2 separate regions of the Homo sapiens genome follow, and region 1 is linked to region 2. The links come from fine-mapping of genetic effects on gene expression. A gene starts in region 2. The other region holds a variant in brackets. All regions are shown on one strand. Distances are between the middles of the regions. Region 1 has its middle 20 kb from the start of PRDM6. Region 2 holds the start of PPIC (peptidylprolyl isomerase C).

Region 1 (11,539 bases), 32 kb before region 2:
CCCTTATTTTCATATACCCCTCATACACCACTCAGTTCCTGACATGCCACTAGGCACATGGAGGCTCTCATCAAATACTTGTTAAATCATCAATAAATGAATGATTGAGTGCATTAGTGAATGAATGAATGAACAAGGGTACACATAAATAAATGAACAAATGAATGAATGCATTTACCCCAAATTCCTACCACATGGAGGTTTGTCACAGACAAAACCCAGAGAGTCAAAGCCAACAGGAGGCTTGTAGTTCAGAGACTATGACAGGGCTAGAGGGTGGAGCTGGCAACCTAGAGAGTTTGAGTCCACCTGCCCTCTGTGTTTTAAGAGAGTGCATTCTTGCACCCTGCCTATGTATACAGGGCTCACTGTCTTTCCTGATGCCAGTCATAAATAGCTACACATTGAATTATTTCTGCATTAGTGTCTGTTTATACTCCTAAGTCCTTTCTGAAGCTAAGGGTTTCTGCCCGTGAGACCCCCATGGAGCCCTCACACAGCTCTTTGGAGTCATTGAACTATACGTTCATAAACAGTTCTTCCAATGAAGGAAGGAAAATTAAGAGATTCTTCCTCTCAGATGGAATGAACTGATAAAATTACTACATTACCATTATCTCTTGCAAGTCTTCCCTATGGTCTAATAATTTCCATTCAGACTTTGTAAGCACAAGCCAGAAGTGTGTGGTCCATTTTCTCTTTAATAAGAAATGCCAGCACACGTCTGTGGACTCGCAGAATGCACTCATATCTCACACAGGAGCAACGCCAGGACATTCTAAATGAGCTCCATGGTGTGTAATCATGGGGCCAAGAAATGAAAGTATAAAACATTATGTGATCTGATCGACACAAACGAAAGAAATGGGAACTTGGCTGGTCCTAGCAAAGCCCCAGATAACCTGAGAGAATAATCAAATTAATTTTGAACTACATGGCTTTCATGAATTCTACATGGAATACAGAGTTTGGAAATAACGTAAGCTACATCAGCTCCTGGAAGAATGGAGGAAACTTTTATTTATTTAATACACTCAATTTCCAGATTTCTGAGTCAAACATGAACAAATATACACACTCAGAAGGGAAAGCTTCACCACTGGATGTTATGGGATTGGAGTGGAGTGGGGAATATGGTAGACCAGGGCAGATGGAAGTTTAATGAAGAAAGAAATGAGTGGTGACAAAAATCAAAGAACTCCTCTCACTTATCCAAAGGAACAGAATGCCAGGGGCTGGGAAACTTCAGTGTGCCTACCATTCCCATGGCCTCCCTTGTGAGGAGTTTGTTACCAGCAGGTGTAACATATAAGTGTATCATTTAAAACCAGTACACTGGCCACAGCTAAGTTGACCAAGAATGGGAGGTTAACCCAATCACAACTATCTACACATGACTAGGTGACCTTGTCTAAGATCTCTGCCTAGAGGCAAACTCTGTGCTGGCGGGGATTGACTGACCAATCAGATTTTTTCTCTTGGGTAATGTGATTTGGGGATAGAGTCTCTGGGTCCATAAGAGCAGGTTCTTTGGAAGAAGAAAGCAAGAAGTTGACGCACCTCATAGTAGCACAGTAGAAAAGTGAGGCATAGAAAGATGCCAGCTCTTGAAGAAACAATAAGGTGTCCCATTCTCTAGAGTTGTTTCTTAAAAGACATTTTAGCCTCGGTGGGGCAGGGCTGTTTAAGGCATCCTAAATGAGTGTCCTTCTTTTCCATCTGAAGTACCAACAAACATGCTACATAACTGTTCCCCATCTAGGGTCTTTGAGACGGATAGAGGCTATTCAAGCATCTATGAGCTTGACAGAAAGAAAGTCTTTAATGGTCCTTCTGACATTTTCTTGTTTTTATTTTAGCCTCAGATTTAAAAAAAAATGAGCTGAAATTCTTCATCCTCACCTCTTTGTCTGTATTGAAATGCAATACATATTATATAATATTCAGGGTAGACCTCTACCATCAAAATTAAATTAATGGTGGGCAAAATGAGAGATTTGAGAAAGGAGAATGTGTGTCTTTAGAATTCCATATGGTAGCCTAGAGAGAAGAGGGAAGCATTCTAAAGTAGGTTAGCACATCCAATTACCTAGCAAAGTTAAGAGGGAGTTTTCTATAAACAATTCCCCTGAAAAACTAGGATTAGAAATGCTTAAAGCTTGCTTGCTCAAAAATGATAACGATCCAATATTTGTGATTCCAAAGTTCTAAGTATTGAAAGCTCAGATTGAGGCATGCTGGTTTTAATGATCCATATTTTATCCTAGACTTGGGTCATGAATTACTCACAATTTCTCTTCGTAGAGCACACTTATACTCTTCATGGATCAAGAGCTTCATTAGACTATTTTCTTACTATAAAAACTAGCACAGTTTCACCAGATAGCAGGGCAGTGTGTTGATCCTGCATGGAATCTGAGCTGTAATCTCATCTGACATGTGTTAAGGCATTTCCATCCATGTTTAGGAGGTGCTTCTATAGCTGAATATGTACATGGAATCTAGAAGCTTCGAATCACATTTAATGTGAAGTTCACACTCTCTTTGTTATAAGGTCCACAGAGTAGCCACAGCTTTAGATAGAAGGATGAGCCACATGCTAACATATTAGAACAGGTACCAGCAGAGGTTACCAAGGCAATATTAGGAAAAAATATGTAATTCCATGTGGCAATCTAGAGAGAAAAAGGAAACATTCTAAAGTAGATTAGCACATCCAATTAGTAAAGGAGGTGAAATTTGTCTCTTTCTCACATATGGTGTTCCCTCATTCAACAAACATGTGGTTGAGTACCATCTCTGTGCCTGGCACTCTGAGATACAGGGTCACCAAGATGAATAGGAGCAGCACTTGCTCAAAGGTGTGCACAGTCTAGTGACTATCAAGGGTAGACTGCACAACAGTATCTGGACGGGTCCTTCACCAAGTCAGGAAAATTAAGTAATGTACAAGGTATCTGGCTCATGCTAGATGTGGGGTTTCCCCCCTAGTTTTATTGAGGTATAATTGACAAATAAAACTTGTATATATTTAAGGTGTACAATGTGATGATCAGATATATGTATACCTCGTCAAGTGATTACCACCATCAAGCTAATTAACACTTTCATTGTCTCACAAGTAACCTTTCTTGTGTGTGGTGAAAACAAAACATGGCTTTTTTAAATGACAAGAATATATTGCATTTTAGAAAATGTAAAATTTTTTAAAGTTAGGGAAAAGGAAAGAGAAGACTTCACAGTTTAGGATCTGGCAAAAACAAGGTGAGAGCAAAATGCATAAAGACATATTAATCTTCCAAATTCCTTAACATCCCACTTTGCCCTAGACAATTCCAGTTTCAGCTATTATACCAAGGTAATTATTAATTAATCAATAATTATTAATTTTTAGAGACAGGGTCTCATTCTGTCGCCCAGGCTAGAATACAGTGGCATGACCATAGCGCACCATAACCTCATAACGTGGGCTCAAGCCATCCTCCCACCTCAGCCTCCCCGGTAGCTAGGAAGGACAACAAGCATATGTCACCACATCTGGCTAAGTATTTTTATTTTTTTTATATTTTAGAGATGCAGTCTTGCTATGGTGCCCAGGCTGGAGTGAAATGGTTATTCACAGGCACAATCCCACTACTGATCAGCGCGGGAGTTTTGGCCTGTTCTGTTTCCCAACTGGGCTGCTTCTCCCCTCCTTAGACAACTTGGGAGCCCCCTGCTCCTTGGAGGTCACCATATTGTTGCCGAACTTAGTGTGGATACCCGATCAACAAAGTGCACTATAGCCCAGAACTCCTGGACTCAAGCGATCCTCCCACCTCAGCCTCCCGAGTAGCTGGGACTACAGGCACACACTACCACACCCGGTGAGTTTTTTTGTTTTCTTTTGTTTCTTTCTTGTAGAGACAAGAGTCTTGCTATGTTGCTCAGGCTGGTCTCAAACTTCTGGCCTCAAGCTATCCTATCCTCTCACCTCAGCCTCCCAAGTGCTAGGATTACAGAGGTGAGCCACTGTACTCAGCCGCAATGTAATTACTAACTGCTCTCCTTTCACTCACAAAAACTGTGCCAACTTGACCGTGAATTATATGGTCGCCCAAGTTTGAAGGAATTCTCATGGGCACAACAGAGAAAAAGTTTATGTTTCACACAGGAGCCTAAGCTAGAGGAAGTAGAAAACATCATAGTTGTAGCTCAGCCATTCTCCCTAGAGAACTGCATTTTGTTTGTGTTATTTGCATTTGTTGTGTATCTTTAACATACATGCATGTTGTTAGTCTGCATTACAATTCTCTACAGTGTAGAAGAAAAATTTAATTGGTATTAATACTATATAGTACAATACCCACAAAATACTCACTGATGTATTTAATAATTAGATGATGGGTGTTCTGAATACTTTAATATGATGTGGAAATCCTTGGTGGATTGTTACATAGATGTTTAAGATGTTTGGTGGTGGCTGGGCACGATAGCTCATGCCTGCAATCCCAGCACTTTGGGAGGCTGAGGCGGGCGGATCATTTGAGGTCAGGAGTTAAGACCAGCCTGACAAACATGGTGAAACCCCGTCTCTACTAAAATACAAAAAAATTAGCCAGGCATGGTGGTGAGCACCTGTAATCCCAGCTACTCGGGAGGCTGAGACAGGAGAATCACTTGAACCCAGGAGGCGGAGGCTGCAGTGAGCCAAGATGATGCCACTGCACTCCAGCCTGGGCAACAGAGTGAGACTCCATCAAAAAAAAAAAAAAAAGAAAAAAGAGACGTTTGGTGATAATTGGACCAAATTGATTGCAATTTATTTTTGAATAAGCCCATT[T/C]CAATAATGCTCTATCTGGCACATTTTCAGGAATAAATTAAATTGATAATGGGGATATTACCTCATTGGGTTGTGAAGATGAACTAGAACAAGCATGTATAAAGCATGTGGCCCACAGTGGATGCCCTCCCCTGAAGCAGAAGTGAAAACATTGGTGTGTAGAGAGTAGGAATTTCAGCCCCCAAGCCCAGTGTGCAAGAACGATTACTTCCTTTATGGGTCCTATGGGCTAAAATTAAGGTGTCAGTAGAGCTGGTTCCTTCTGGAAGCTCTAGAGGAGAATGCGTTTAACTTGCTTTTCCCACCCTCTAGAGGCCACCTGCACTCCTTGGCTGGAACCCCTCAAGCCAGCAGGGCAGCATCATCACGACTCCTTCACTGATTCTGCTCTCCAGCCTCCCTCCTATAAGGGGCGTTGGAATCACATCAGGTCCATCTGGGTATTCCAGGATACTTCCCCACCTCAAGATCTTTCACGTAATCACATCTGTAAAGTCTCTTTTTGCCACATAAGGTAACACAGTTCTGAGAATTAGAACGTGAACGTTTTGGGGGGACCATTTGTCCTTGCACCTCCCACACACCCGTTTACTCCCTGGGGCCTCACTGCATCCAGGATCTACTGGAAAGCATGGTGAAGGCCCCTTTTGGACCTCCACTTCTGTCTGCATTCACACCCATGTACCTCCTTAATTCTACCCCACCGTGACCCAGGAAAATCTTTTTCACGTTTAGAGGAAAGCTCCTCCCTCTCCCAAACATTCTGTTCAAACCCAGAATCTATTGTGTCCCTAAAGATATAGGCATTTAGAGCACAAAACAAGTAACTTACCATCTGCTTTTGCTTTTTGGCCAGTTTGCTGTCTTCTCCTGAGATTATGGATGACTGCCAACTATCTGATTGAAAGGAAGGAGGCAAAGAGGGGAAATATGGGAAGAGAAAAGTCTGTAAATTACCATCTCAAAGTATTGTCCAGTCACATTTGCAAAAGAACATCCAACCTTCTGAGGGCCAAACATAAAGGATGTCAGGGAGGGTCCCAGAGGAAATCTCTTCCTTCCTCTGGTGTCTTCTCATCCTTATTTCCACTGTAGCCACCCCCTCACTTGGCTCTGGGAGCATCCTGCCTCCCCACTACCAAATATTGCCCAGAACCCTTTTCTGTATTCTCCCTAGCATACCTGAGACAGACTGGTGTTTTCACAAAGAGCAGTACTCAGTGCCAAGACAGACAAAAAGGAAATTGTTACTCAAAATACAAACACCATAAAAATTATTAAGACTTCCTTAGAGAATTGTCTGGCCCAAGATCATACTCTCTGGCCAAGGAGGCTGTTCCAGCTAGTAGTGTGTCTGGCTTTCTCCCTTACTCTCACTCCCACTGACACCTGCATCTTACCTTTTACTCCAAAGCAGGTGCCACGTTATTCTCTGACACAGGGCAGCACATCAGTCAACTACTCTTCCTCCTGGCCCAAGTTAAATAGCGCCCACATTCTCACACCTGCCATTGTCCCTGCCGTTCAGCCTGGCTTGTCATCTGAGCGACTTCCCCAGCCTAAGGACAGCACCACCATGATGGACAAATGGATAATCTCACCCTTTGCATCTTAGGTTATCCATTCCGCCCATGGAACTCACCTCCTGTGGTAATTTCTATATCTACTCATAGATAAAGATAACTCCACACCACACCACACACGCGCGCGTGCGCGCGCGCGCGCGCACACACACACACACACACACACAGAGCTCTACAATATCAAAGAATCTCAAGAATGTGATAACTACATTTTTCTTGCATAACTATACAGTTATGGAGCAAGAAGGTAAATTTTCCAAAGGCACACTGTGGAATTTTAGGAGGAGAAAATATAATTTCTTTAAAAAAAAAAAAAAAAGAAATACAGCAACCCAATAAAAAATGAGCAAAGGGCTTAAATAGACATTTTCCCTAAAGAAGATACACACATGGCCAACAAGCACATGAGAAGATAATCAACATTAGTCAACAGGGAAATGCAAATCAAAACTACAATGCAATGAGATAGAACTTCACAAGCACTAGGATGGCTATAATTTTTTAAACACACAAAATGCAAAGTAACAAGTTGGTGAGCCTTAGAGAAATTGGAACCCTCATCCATTTCTGGTGGGAATGTAAAATGGTGTAGCTACTATGGAATATAGGCTGGTGGTCCCTCAAAAAGTTAAAGATAGAATTACCAAATGACTCAGAAACTCTACCCCAGGACTCTACCCAGAAGAACAAAAAACAGGCACTCAAATACTTGTATATAGCAGCACTGTTGACAATAACCAAAAACTAGAAACAATCCAGATGTTCATCACTGGACAAAGAAAGTGTGATATGTACACATGTATAAAATAGAATATTACTCACTCATAAAAAGAAATGAAGTACTGATACATGCTACCGTGTAGATGAGCCTTGAAAACCTTCTGCTAAGTAAAGGAATCCGGATGCAAAAGGTCACATATTATATAATTCCATTTTTATGAAATATCCAGAAAAGGCAAAACCATAGAAACAGAAAGCAGATTTGTGATTACCAGGGGCCAGAGAAAGGGGATGGGGAGATGACTATTTAATGGGTATGGAGTTTTCTTTAGGGATGATGAAAATGTTTTGGAGCTAGATAGAGGTCATGAATGCACAATATTGTGAATATACTAAATGTCACTGGATTGTACATTTTACAATGGTTAATTTTATGTTATGTGAATTTCATCTCAGTCTTTTTTAAAAAGGGGAAAATTACAGAACTAGGAGTAAGAGGACCAGACATTGAGTCCTGACTTTAGTGCTTATTAGCCACTTCACTATAGGCAAGCAATTTAAATTCCAAGTCTCAATTTCCTCATCGCAAAGCAAGACTAATAATATTTGTACCACTTGCTTCATATGATTATTGTAGGAAAAAGATGAGATATTGTTTGGTATAATTATGTCATGTAAAAGTGATATAAAATGCTAGATATTATCATTATTGAGCTAATAGTCATTAAAATGTATACTCAGTAAGAAAACTGAAAGCTCCCTTTCATACTTTTACAAAATCCAAGTTGTGATAAGTGTACTCACAACTGCCTATTTTGTTCATTTTCTCTTGAGACATGATCTCACTCTGTCACCCAGGCTGGAGTGCAGTAGCCCAATCATGGCTTACTGCAGCCTCGAACTCCTGAGCTCAAGCGATCTTCCTGCCTCAGCCTCCCAAGTAGGTGGGACTACAGATGTGCACCACCACACCTGGCTAGTTTTATATATATTTGTAGAAACAGGGTCTTGCTATGTTGCCCAGGCTGGTTTTGAACTTCCAAACTCAAGCAATCCTCCTGCCTCAGACTCCCAAAGTGCTGGGATCACAGGCGTGAGCCACAACACCCAGCCACAACTTTCTATTTTTAATTTATATATTGTAATCAAAGGATTGCAATAGATCACTTTTATTCAGACAAGAAGGCAGCATTTAAAAAATTTCATCTATAATGTCAAGTCTCACTGTAGAAGTGATCTTAGGCAAGGAAGATTAAAACATACATCATAAATTCTTTACATATGAGTGACAGAAATGTGAGTCATTTTCTATGCCCAACAGGCACAAGTGACACATGAGTATTTGTGGTGTATAAGTTCTCCTTGAAGCAGGTGATATGGTTTGGCTGTGTCCCCACCCAAATCTCATCCTGAATTTAACTCCCACAATTCCCATGTATTCTGGGAGGGACCCAGTGGGAGGTGATTGAATTATGGGGGTGGGTCTTTCTCATGCTGTTCTTGTGATGGTGAGTGGGTCTCGTGAGATCTGATGGTTTTAAAAAGAGGAGTTCCTCTGCACAAGCTCTCTTTGCCTGCTGCCATCCATGGAAGATTTGACTTGCTCCTTCTTGCCTTCCACCATGATTGTGAGGCCTCCCCAGCCATGTGAAACTGTACGTCCCATAAACCTCTTTCTTTTGTAAATTGCCCAGTCTCAGGTATGTCTTTATCAGTAGTGTGAAAATGGACTAATACAGCAGGTTTTCACAATATTTTCAACAAAGTAATGATAAAAATACAGGGGGATATTAAAACATCTTTAGTTTAAGAAAACATAAATAGGACTTACTCCATGGTTGCAATGGCTTAATGTTTAGTTAGGAAATACTAACAAAAGATCAAGTTTCTCTTTCTCTCTTTGTTTCTTGAATAACATAAGCAGTCTCAAAGAAATTTGGTTATAAAGAAGTAAAGTCTGATGAAATAATTACAGTTTTATAGCATATTTATGAGACTGGTAAGTAGTTACTCTTCTCTGACTTTATATCTCTATACTATCTCTCCAAAGTATGCTAGCTGATAATTTCTTGAAATACTTTTTAGGGTAAAATACAAGAGAGTTGAGGGTTTTATAGGATTTTACAAGTAGTCTAGACTATTCAAATATAAATCCATTTTTCTTGATAATGTCATAGTCATTTCATGCCACTGTAACATTCTTGCCATCTAATAACCAAAGCCTTACTGCACCTGGCAAATTTTTTTTTTTTGGTAACAATTATTCATTTTGTACTATTTGGTAATTAGCAATAAAATTCTTGAACACAGACTAAATATATGCAGTTGTCATGAGTTTCAGGCAAAATTATAATAGTTCAGTCCATTCAGAATATGTAATGTTATTGTTATGATACTGGTTCTGTTTTATTACTAAACACACTACAATTGTCCAGTAGCAAACACGTCAGTCCCCAAAATTCTGTAAATCCATCACGATTCTGGAGTTGGAAGCCAGGGTCAAAACAGGTGGTTGGAAATAACCAAGGAGGGTGAGGGTTGAATTATCTGTTGGGCACAATGTTCACTATTTGGGTAATGGGCACCCCAGAAGCCCAATCACCACCAGTATGTAACACATCCATGTAACAAACATGCACATGTACCCCTGAATCTAAAATAAAATAAAAAATTTAAAAACGGACTTCTTGGAATCCTAAGTAACCAAGGACACCTCATGAACTCCACATCTGGGTTTTTATATACCAAGTTACATATATAAATAGTTCATTTTCCTATTTTTAATTAATCTAAGATGTGTATGCACCAAGAAAGACTGCTTGCAAGCATGGGATATGTTAATACATTTCCCAAAATAACTTAACATTTTAGTTAATATTATTGTAAGTAAATATAATAATTCTATTAGTCTTTTTGGACTATTAAAAATAGTTTTCAGCCCTTTATTACTATGTCCAAGGAATTATATGCATCAGTAACTTGGGTAGTAAACAGAAAAGATCTAACATTATTGAGTACTTATGATATGCTAGATTCTGTCCTAGACACTATGTATATGGTTCTGGCACATATATAAATATAAAAATCTTATTTAATTATCACCAAAATCTTGTGAAGAAGGTGTTATTATCACCTCCTTTTTAGAGATGAAGATACTAAGGCTCACAGAGTTTAAGTAAATTGTCTGAGGTCCCATTGCTAATTGGTCAAATTGTGGCTCAAACCCAGTGCCCTTTGAATTTAAGGACAAGGCTTAAACACCAAAATTAATGACTTAACTAAGGAACCTAGCATCCCAACATCAAGCAAGTCTCCTGGATGTTGAGAATAGAAAACCAGAACCAAGCCTGGATTGCAGGGTGGATGAATGCTCCTCTAACAAGTATTTTCTAAGCAACCGCTATTGGCCTTGCCTTACGGAGTGTGAATGAGACAGACTTGTCCCGTGCCTTCACAGAGCTTAGACTCTAACAGTTTGGTTAAGACACTGAACCAGTGATCAAGTGGCTCTAAAGACCTATAGAAGTGGTGGTGAGAACATGCCACGGGAGAAGAAACTTCTGGCTCTCAACTAGATTTTCAAGATTATGGGGAGGAAGGTGAAAATAAATCCTGTAACAGTGGCAAACAATACATTTAACAAGACGCCTTTGAGTCAACAAGCATGACAGGGCACCAACAAAGTGCAAGGTACCAAGCTGAGCCCTGCTCTTCATAAGATATTCCAATATTTCATGCATCTCCTATTTCATATATACAGGCGTCTCCTAGGGAAAGTTGTATTTTCGCTGAAAGATCACACGTTTTGTTAAAGATTTCATTGGTTATCCCAAAAGTAGCATGGCGATAAGAGTGTCTTCCATGTGGTGAGCCTGGCTGGACTTGAGGACACAAGGGTGGGGTGCTCCAGACCAGATTACATGCAGGCACTAACCACAGAATTGGAGCATTCAGGTCGTGTCTCCCTCCAATGCATCTAACTGTGGAAACTCAATCAGGTCCAGAAATGAATCAATTTCCTTTGCCTGTGTCCTTAAATTTGATGAATAGAGCCTTTGCTTAGAGCTACTGAAGCTGCTATTCATCTCAGTTAGCTGCTAAATAAAACGTTGTTCTTGGATGTAATTCTGGCGAATATGACTTTGGAGATTTTTCATGTAACTGTGTAAGTCCAAGTTATTCCCCAAGTGATCCTACATTCGAGCTATTTTTGTTCCACGTGCTCCATATTTTTTTCCATGTTAGAGACTAGGAATCTAGAAGACCAGGTTTTCTTGTTGGATGGTGAGGAAGATAAATCTGAGTACATGTGCAAATTTTTGTGAAATAAACAGCTAAAGTTATCCTCATTGAAAATTACCTTTCTAGTCAGTGCAATTTGATAATCTGGAAATAGTTTTGGACTTTTAGACAC
Region 2 (8,000 bases):
AACAGAATAGAGAATTTGAATAATCTCCAACTATTTTAAAAGTTAAATATATAATTTAGAATGTTACAATAAAGAAAACTCCAGGCTCAGATGGCTTCTAAGAAACATTCAAGGAAGAAATGGTAATCTTACACAAACCCTTTAAGAGTAGGGGAAAAACAGCTACCATTTGCCAACTCATATTAAGAGGCCAGAACAACTCTAATACAAAAGCTGAGAGGAAACTCCAATAAAGGAAAATTTCAGGCTAGTCTCATTCAAGAATTTAGATGCAAATATCCTGAAAATAAGATTAGCAGATTTACCCACTAACACTGAAATGACATGTGGGTGACGAACTCAGTCTCAGCTGGACAGCCAGAGCCACATTTTACCCACTCTTTTCTTCCTGAACTTCAGAAGATAGTCTATATTCAGTTTTTGGCAACTTTGTTAATAAACTGATATTGCCAAACCACATCTAGTAATATATAAAAAGGATAATCCATGTTGGACACATTCCAGAATGTAAGCTTGGGTTAAGATTTGAAAATCAATGCAATTCATCACATTAACAGAGTAAGAGAATCACATAATTATTTCAATTGATTTCAATAGATGATGTTAATAAAATTTAAATCAAATATATGCTAAAAACTCTTAGCAAACAAGGACTAGAAAGGAATTTTCTGAATCTGAAAAAAGATATCCCCCAAAAGGACCTTCAGCAAATATCATGCCTAATGGTGAAACACTGAAGCTTTCCCTCTGACACTGGGACCAAGACAAGGTGTATGAGCCCCCTAGGGCTGCTGTAACAAAGTGCCACAAACTGGGTGACTTCAAACAAGAGAAATGCATTGTCTCACAGTTCTGGAAACTAGCAGCTGAGATCAAGGTGTTGGCAAGGCCATGCTGTCTTTGAAGGCTCTAGGGGCAAATCCTTCCTTGCCTCTTCCTAGCTTCTGGGGGTTGCCAGCAATCTTTGGCATCCCTTGTCTTGTAGATACAGCACTCCAATCTCTGCCTCCATCCTCATATGGTGTTCTCTGTGCGTGTGTCTGTGTCTGTTCCCTTTTTATGAGGACACAAGTCATATTAGAGTAGGGCAAACCCTACTCCAGTATGATTTCATCTTAACTTGATTACGTCTGCAAAGGCAGTCCAAATAAGGTCACATTCACAGATACCAAGGTTTAGGACTTCAATATATCTTTTTGGAGGATAATTCAGTCTACAATACAAGGACTCCCACTGTTGCCACTTCCTTTTGTACTGCAGATCCCAGCCAGTGTAAAAAGGCCAAAAAAGAAATACAAAATGTAAAGATTAGAAAAGAAGAAATAAAACTGTCATTATTCATGGATGACATAATTGTCTATGGAGAAAATCCTAAACAATTCACAGATAAATTATTAGAATATGTTTAACAAGGTTGGTATATACAAAGTTAATATATAAATTAATTTTACTACAATACATGACAATAGCATAAAAAAACACTTAGAAATCAAACTAATAAAATACGTGTAAGACCTCTGGGCAGAAAGCTATAAAATCTTATTGAGAGAAACCAAAGAAGACTTAAATATGCTATGTTCATGAATTAGAAGACTCAATATTGTAAATTTGCCAAGTCTTAAATGGTCTACAGATGCAGTGCAATCCCCATCAAAATCTCAGTGTGTGGAAACTGACAGGCTGATTCTCAAGTTATATGGACATGGAAAAGCTCAAGAACAGCCAAGAATTTGTTGAACAAAGCTAAGAGGGTATGTATTACTGAATATGAAGAGTTATTATAAAGCTATTTTAATGAAGACAATGTAGTATTGGCACAAAGACAGACAAATAGGCCAATGGGACAGATAGGGTGCCCACAAACACACCTATGCATACATGGGCACTTGCTCTGTGACAGAAGAACAGTATGGAGCGGTGAGTTAAAGGGGAGAATTTTCAATAAACTGTACTGAAATAAATGAATATTCTTATGAAAAAAATGAATTTGCTTCCTACTTTGTATTAGCCACCAAAATAGTTATATGCAAAAATATAGATGAATTTCACAAAAATTTAAGCAAAAAGAAATACATACGGTAATACCCTATTCAAATAAAATTAAAACAAAATTAAACTATAGTACAAGAAAAGTCAGGATTGCAGTTAATTTGGGCAGAAAAAAGTGTTTGTAACTGGCAGAGGGTATAAGAGGAGTTTCTAGGGAGCTGGGAAAGATTTCATTTCTTTGCCTAGAGGGTGAGATGGTGGTAGCATAAAAAGTAGTTGGACACATTCATTCATTCAACAAATAGTTATTGAGAAATCACTATATATCAGGCATTGCACTAGATCTGGGTCATCAAAGGGGAATAAATATAGGCCTGATCCCTGCCCTGGCCCTGCTTACTTCTGATAGCAGACAGACAAAAACAATTAATGAACACAGATAAATATATACAATCACCTCACAGTCACCTCGTAGGGTAAGTGCTCTGAGAGATACCCTTGTCTTGCTACACAAGGGGGACTCTTTCCTTATTGGGGGTGGGGATGAAGAGGAAAGCCATTAGGTCTTTCACTGGACTGAATCATAAAAATAGCTCAGAATTGCATTTCTCCTTTTTCTCACCCCAAAGAAGTAGTGGTTACTCCTTTTATCTCTAATGGTTCCAATGTCATTTTAGATCTACACTTAGGTACACCTAGGAATCCCATCTGACATTTAGAAATTCCATCTCTTAATCCGAGGAAAATCTTGGCTTGAAAGTAATGGCACCAGCCCCTTAAAATGGCACCTATGTGCGAATACCACTAATTTTTAGTTAATTTTAGGGCTGTTACTCTAAAACAAAAAAGTTCTTTTGAAATTCTAATTCAAAAAGCAATGAGTTTTAAAATAACCCTTTCCATGTTATAAAATACTTATATGCTCATTGTAGAACATCTGGGAAATCAGAAAACTGTAAAAAAAATTTTTTTAAACCCTCAAAAATCCATAAGTCTATCAATAGCTATCAATTCTATCTATAGCTACTGTAAACGTTGTGGTACATCTCTTTCAATATTTAAGTGCCTTGATATATTTATTTTCACGGTTGAGATCAGAATTTGTGGTTTTGCAACCCGAATTTTCCATTTAAAAATATAATAAGAACTTACTTCCCCAGTCATTAATCTTCCTAAACATAATTCTTAAGTTTGTAAAAAATCCATCCTACAGATACACCTAAAAGTCAGTTTATTTACTTTGTTTCCCCAGGAAAGAATCCTACATGACCATGGTTCTGGGCCTGTGTAAGTGCTGCCTTGTGAACAGTGTAGATAAGATCACAGAATCATCCTCCAAATAAAGTACTTAAAGCCAATGTAAAAGTTTTTCGAAGGCAAAGGGGCACTGTGAATCCAGCATTTTCCAGTGTTCCCTAGACGTGAATCATCTCAAAGAGAGGCCATTATTCGAGTGCAACAGGGCTCCACGCCTCCAGCGATGTCAAAGTTCTGCTAAGCGTCCAAAACCTAGCAAAAGGTTCCAATGGGCCATTGGAACTCGGCGGCCGCGGCGGAGGCTGCTCCCAAGGCGGCAGCAATCACACCGGGACCGGCTGCAGAGTTCCCAGTCCCGCGGAGCGCTAGCTGCCGGGCGGACGCGGAAGCCCGAGAGTCCTGGTCTTCCCGTCCAAGTTTAATCCGCGCCTACGCGGTAAATTCCTGGAGGTGCTCCCAGCCTAGCCCGCTGCGCCCGGCTCCGCGCCTGGGCAACCCGGGCTCCCTCCCGTCCCTGGCGCCCTCCGCACCCGCCTAAGGCGCGGCGGTCGAGCCCTGGCTGCGCCCTGTGGGCGCGCTCCTCCGAATCCCAAGTTCGGGTCGCGAGTCTGAACTTGGGAGGAACGCGCCCCGGGTCCCCGCCCTTCCCGGACTGCCCGATCCCCATCCCCCGCAACCGGGAGCGCGCAGGCGCAGCCGGCCGGCAGTCCCGTCAGCTGTCCCAGAGCCTGTGTCGCGCCCGTGCCGGTAGCGCCCGTGCCGGTAGCGCCGCTGCCACCGCTCACCATGGGCCCGGGTCCTCGGCTGCTGCTACCTCTCGTGCTTTGCGTGGGGCTCGGCGCACTTGTGTTTTCTTCGGGGGCCGAGGGCTTCCGCAAGCGAGGCCCCTCGGTGACGGCCAAGGTGACCGAGAGCGGCGGGCTGCAACTTCCCCTGTTGCGGGCGGGGCCCTGGGGGCGCTTTGGATACTGGGACCTCGGTGTCAGGGCGGGCGAGGTGGAGGCTTCCCGGGCGCAGGGGGACTGGAGGCGGCCGCGGGACTGGGTGGGAGGGGGCTGCTCGCGTGCTGGGAGGCCGGCGCTCCGGGGGAGACCCTGGGGGAGCTGGGCTGAGGCCAGCCTACCTCCGCCGCAGTCTGCTTGGACTTCTTGTCCCGGGTCGGTAGTCCGAGGTGACCAGCCTGGGGGTAGGAGAGGCTTCCGGAACCGGCGGGCCCGTTCTCCAGGAAAGAGACTGCCCAAGTACTTCCTTCAGCGTGGCCTGGGCTCGGGAGCAGAACGAGAGGAATGCGGGGAGGGGGGCGGGACCCGCACAGGAGAGGCGCTCGGAGCCCAGGGCTTGCAGCCGCCCGCCCGCTGCGTGGTCTCCACGCTGGCCGCGGTGGCTTCAGGCAGGCATTAAAGCGCCTGGTTCAGATGAGAGACTACCCTCCGCCTCTTTTGGGGAACCGTCGTCCTTCCCGGGAAGGGGAGGTGCGCCTTCAACTTCGGCGGGCGGGCGGCCCCTGCTGTGGGCTACGCGAGGCCGGGCGAAGGCGGCACCTGTAGACCTGGGGCAGCCTCCACTGCGGGGAAAGGGGGCGGGGGGCTGCCAGAAAGTGCGTCTTTAAGGCTTCCTCGTACTTAACTCCGCTTCAGTTCTTTTTTCAGCGTATTTAACCAAGGGTAGACGATAATGGGAGAATGCAGGGAGAGGGAGGGGATAATTTGGTGCCCATGATCACCACTTCTAGAAAACCCACTGGCAATAGTGTCTTCGAAGCTGAAGCTGGAGGGGGCGGGCTGCAGCTGAAAGTGGTCTTCATCAGTCTGGGGTTTGTCAATGGAAACGATACTAATCAACGAGTAGAATGCTTACATCCTCGACCGCAGACGCCACCTGAGGACGGGGAGGACTAGGGGGTGGGGAGGAGGAGGTCCAGCTCAGCATCTGATGTCGCAGAAAGGCCGTGCCACGTTGTGGGCGGGGCTGATAAACAGCCTGATGGTTTCGAGAAGCTCTGATCTTACTCCCAGCCTCTTGATCTTGTAGGCATGTCTAACTTTGGGAAATGGTTTGTGCAAGGCCACAGAGCTGAACGGGGTCTCTTGGGATAAAGCCATAAACATAAAATTCGCACAATTATGAAATGTTGGAGGAAATAAACTGTAATATACTTTGGGTGACATTTAAAAATAGCTGAAAAATGAGAAAAACCAGCGCAGAGAAGACTAAGGAGGCAAAGGGAACTGCATATGCATAGGTCCTCAAACAGGAAAGCCCTCCCTGCATTCAGAGGATGTGGAGAGGACGGAATGGCTTCAGCACAGAATGAGAGGTGACTTGAGATGAGGTTGGAGGGGTGAGCAGCAGCGGAATCACACAGGGCCTTAGAGGCTGCAGGTAGGCATGCGGGTATTGAGGCAATTCTTAAAATTTGAAGTGTTATTCTGCAGTCAGAGCCACTGAAGGGTTTTAAGCATAAGAATGGCATGATCTCAATATATACTCGAGAAATTTATGTGGTCACTCAGTGGAGAGTGAAATGGGAGGTCATTCAGGGCACCATGCCAGAGTCCAGATGGTGGCTTGGATTAGGGTGGTAATCATTGAAATGGGGAGCAAGGGAAGGACTTGAAATAGATTTTGGAGATATAACTAACAGGAGTTGCTGACGGTTTAGAAAGGGGGCGAGGGAGAGGGAATAGGATTGCCAAATAAAATACAGGATGCCCAGTTAGATGTGAATATCAGATTAACAATGAATAAATGTTTTTAGTGTAAGTACGTCCCCTGCAATATTTGGGAACAGGTTTCACCTGGGAAACTTCTTAAACTTACTGATGCAGTGACCCACCCCAGAGCAAGTCAATCACAATCTGTATGGGTGGGGCTCAGTATCCTATCTTTTAGAAGCTTTTGGTGATTCTGATGTGCAGGCAGTGTGGGCGGGGAACCACTGGAAGATGGAGCCAAGAGAGGAGGAAGCTGGTGGCTGCAGGAGGGGAAGGGTTTGAGCATCCTAAACCCTTGTCTGTGACACTGTCACTGAGGGAGAGTTTGCATGCACCCTACTCTCAGAATTGTTACTTAACATGTCTTTTTTCCCCCTACCAAATTTGTCATTAAGTTTTTCTAAAAGCTGATTGTGTAGGTGCGTCTTAAACAGATTCTGCTCTGTTAAATTACTTTTTCATGAACTTGTAAAGACAACTAAATCTATTGGAAAATGACGTTAAAAATAATTTCTCTGAGTGCAGACAAGTACATTAATTGGCCATTGCTCTAGTGTATTGTTTTCCCCAGCAGTGTTTTTGTTTACCTCTGATTTCATTTAAAAATAGGAATCTGTAAATAAGAGAGGTGTGAGGTGCTATTCTGCCCACATGGCCCATTAGTGGCACTAACTTGGTCCACAGATCCTGCTGCTGGGCCAGCCTGGCAGCTTCCTGCCCCAGCCATAGAGGCTCAGGTGGGGGCTCTGGCTCATTGGGCTCCAAATCCACAGAATTACATTTGCTGACCTATATTTCTGAACCAATGCCATGGGATCTGTGCAGGATCCGGCATCGGGAGTGTATGAAATAATGCCACCATCCTTCCAGCTGCACACATATTACAGCTTGCAAGCACATTAGCATGTAGTGGCCAGGAGGCTGTGGCTAGATGGCCTTAGACAAGTTATCTAATGTCCACAGCTCAGTTTCCTCCTTTGTCAAATGGAGATAGAAATCATCCCTACCTGGGAGGGCTTTGCACATTAGATGTGGTAAAGCAGATGTCTTAGTCCATTTATGTTGCTATAAAAGAATACTTGAGGCTGGGCAATTTATGAAGAAAAAAGGTTTATTTAGCTCACGGCTCTGCTATGAGCTGTAAGATTCAAGACTGGGCATCTGGTGACAGCCTCAGGCTGCTTCCAGTCACGGCGGCGGAAGGTGATAGGGAGCAGGCAGGTGCAGATCACGTGGAGAGAGAGGAAGCTGAAGGGGGTGGTGCCAGCTTCCTTTTAAAACCAGTTCTCATGGGAACTAACAAAGTGAGAACCCATTCACTACTGAGATGGCACCAAGCCATTCATGAGGGATCTACACCCATGACTCAAACACCTCGCATTAGGCCCCACCTCCAACATTAGGATCAAATATCCAAACCATAGCAGCAGGTAAAGCACATAGTCCATAGTCCCTGATTTCAGAAGTCACTTGTTAGTGTTATTTGTGTTTATCTTCTTAATCCTACTGTGACAGAGCAGACCTGAAAGGAATCATCATTTATTTTACAGATGAAGAAAGGGAGTTCAGAGTTTAATTAACTTGCTGAAGTTTCCATGGCCATTGAGTGGTGGAGCTGCATTTGAGAACAGTTTCTTCCACATCGCAGCTCATGTACTGGGTGTGTTCCCTAGTTACTTTGGAAATGGAATCAGGATTAATTCCACAGGGGTTTGGGTCAGGCTGTGTAAGTGCCTCCTCCCTCTTCCTCTACCTCCTCCCATCTCCAATGCCGAGTAATTTTCAAATGACTTTCAAGGGCAGCCTTGAGGGAAAAAACAAGTGACTGAGGTGCTCACCCCAAAGTCTAGCATGGAATCCAATATCACCTTTCCCAGGAAGCCCACACTTATCTCCACAGATAATCACCACCCCTTACCATGACACCTTATCTGTACTTGTCTTATAAAATCTGACTTCTCATTATATTATAGCATTCATATATGTGTTTTCTGTTGGACTGAAGCTCCTTGAGGGTAGGAGCTTTGTAGCCCCACCCCA

Evidence for each region.
Region 1: its variant is fine-mapped to the expression of PPIC in tibial nerve (GTEx, PIP 0.98).

What each region holds. Positions count from the first base shown.
Region 1 is chr5:123,063,111-123,074,649 of GRCh38, reverse strand. It overlaps the pseudogene RN7SL711P. Among named protein-coding and RNA genes, the nearest start is that of PRDM6, 20 kb to the left of the region's middle. The variant T/C (reference allele first, on the strand shown) is at 4,823.
Region 2 is chr5:123,032,658-123,040,657 of GRCh38, reverse strand. PPIC (peptidylprolyl isomerase C) reads left to right here and starts at 3,933. Exons shown (of 5, transcript NM_000943.5): 1 at 3,933-4,149. The coding sequence starts at 4,033. PPIC-AS1 (PPIC antisense RNA 1) reads right to left here and starts at 4,736. Exons shown (of 2, transcript XR_001742868.2): 1 at 4,370-4,736. RefSeq lists silencers at 3,707-3,756, 5,065-5,237.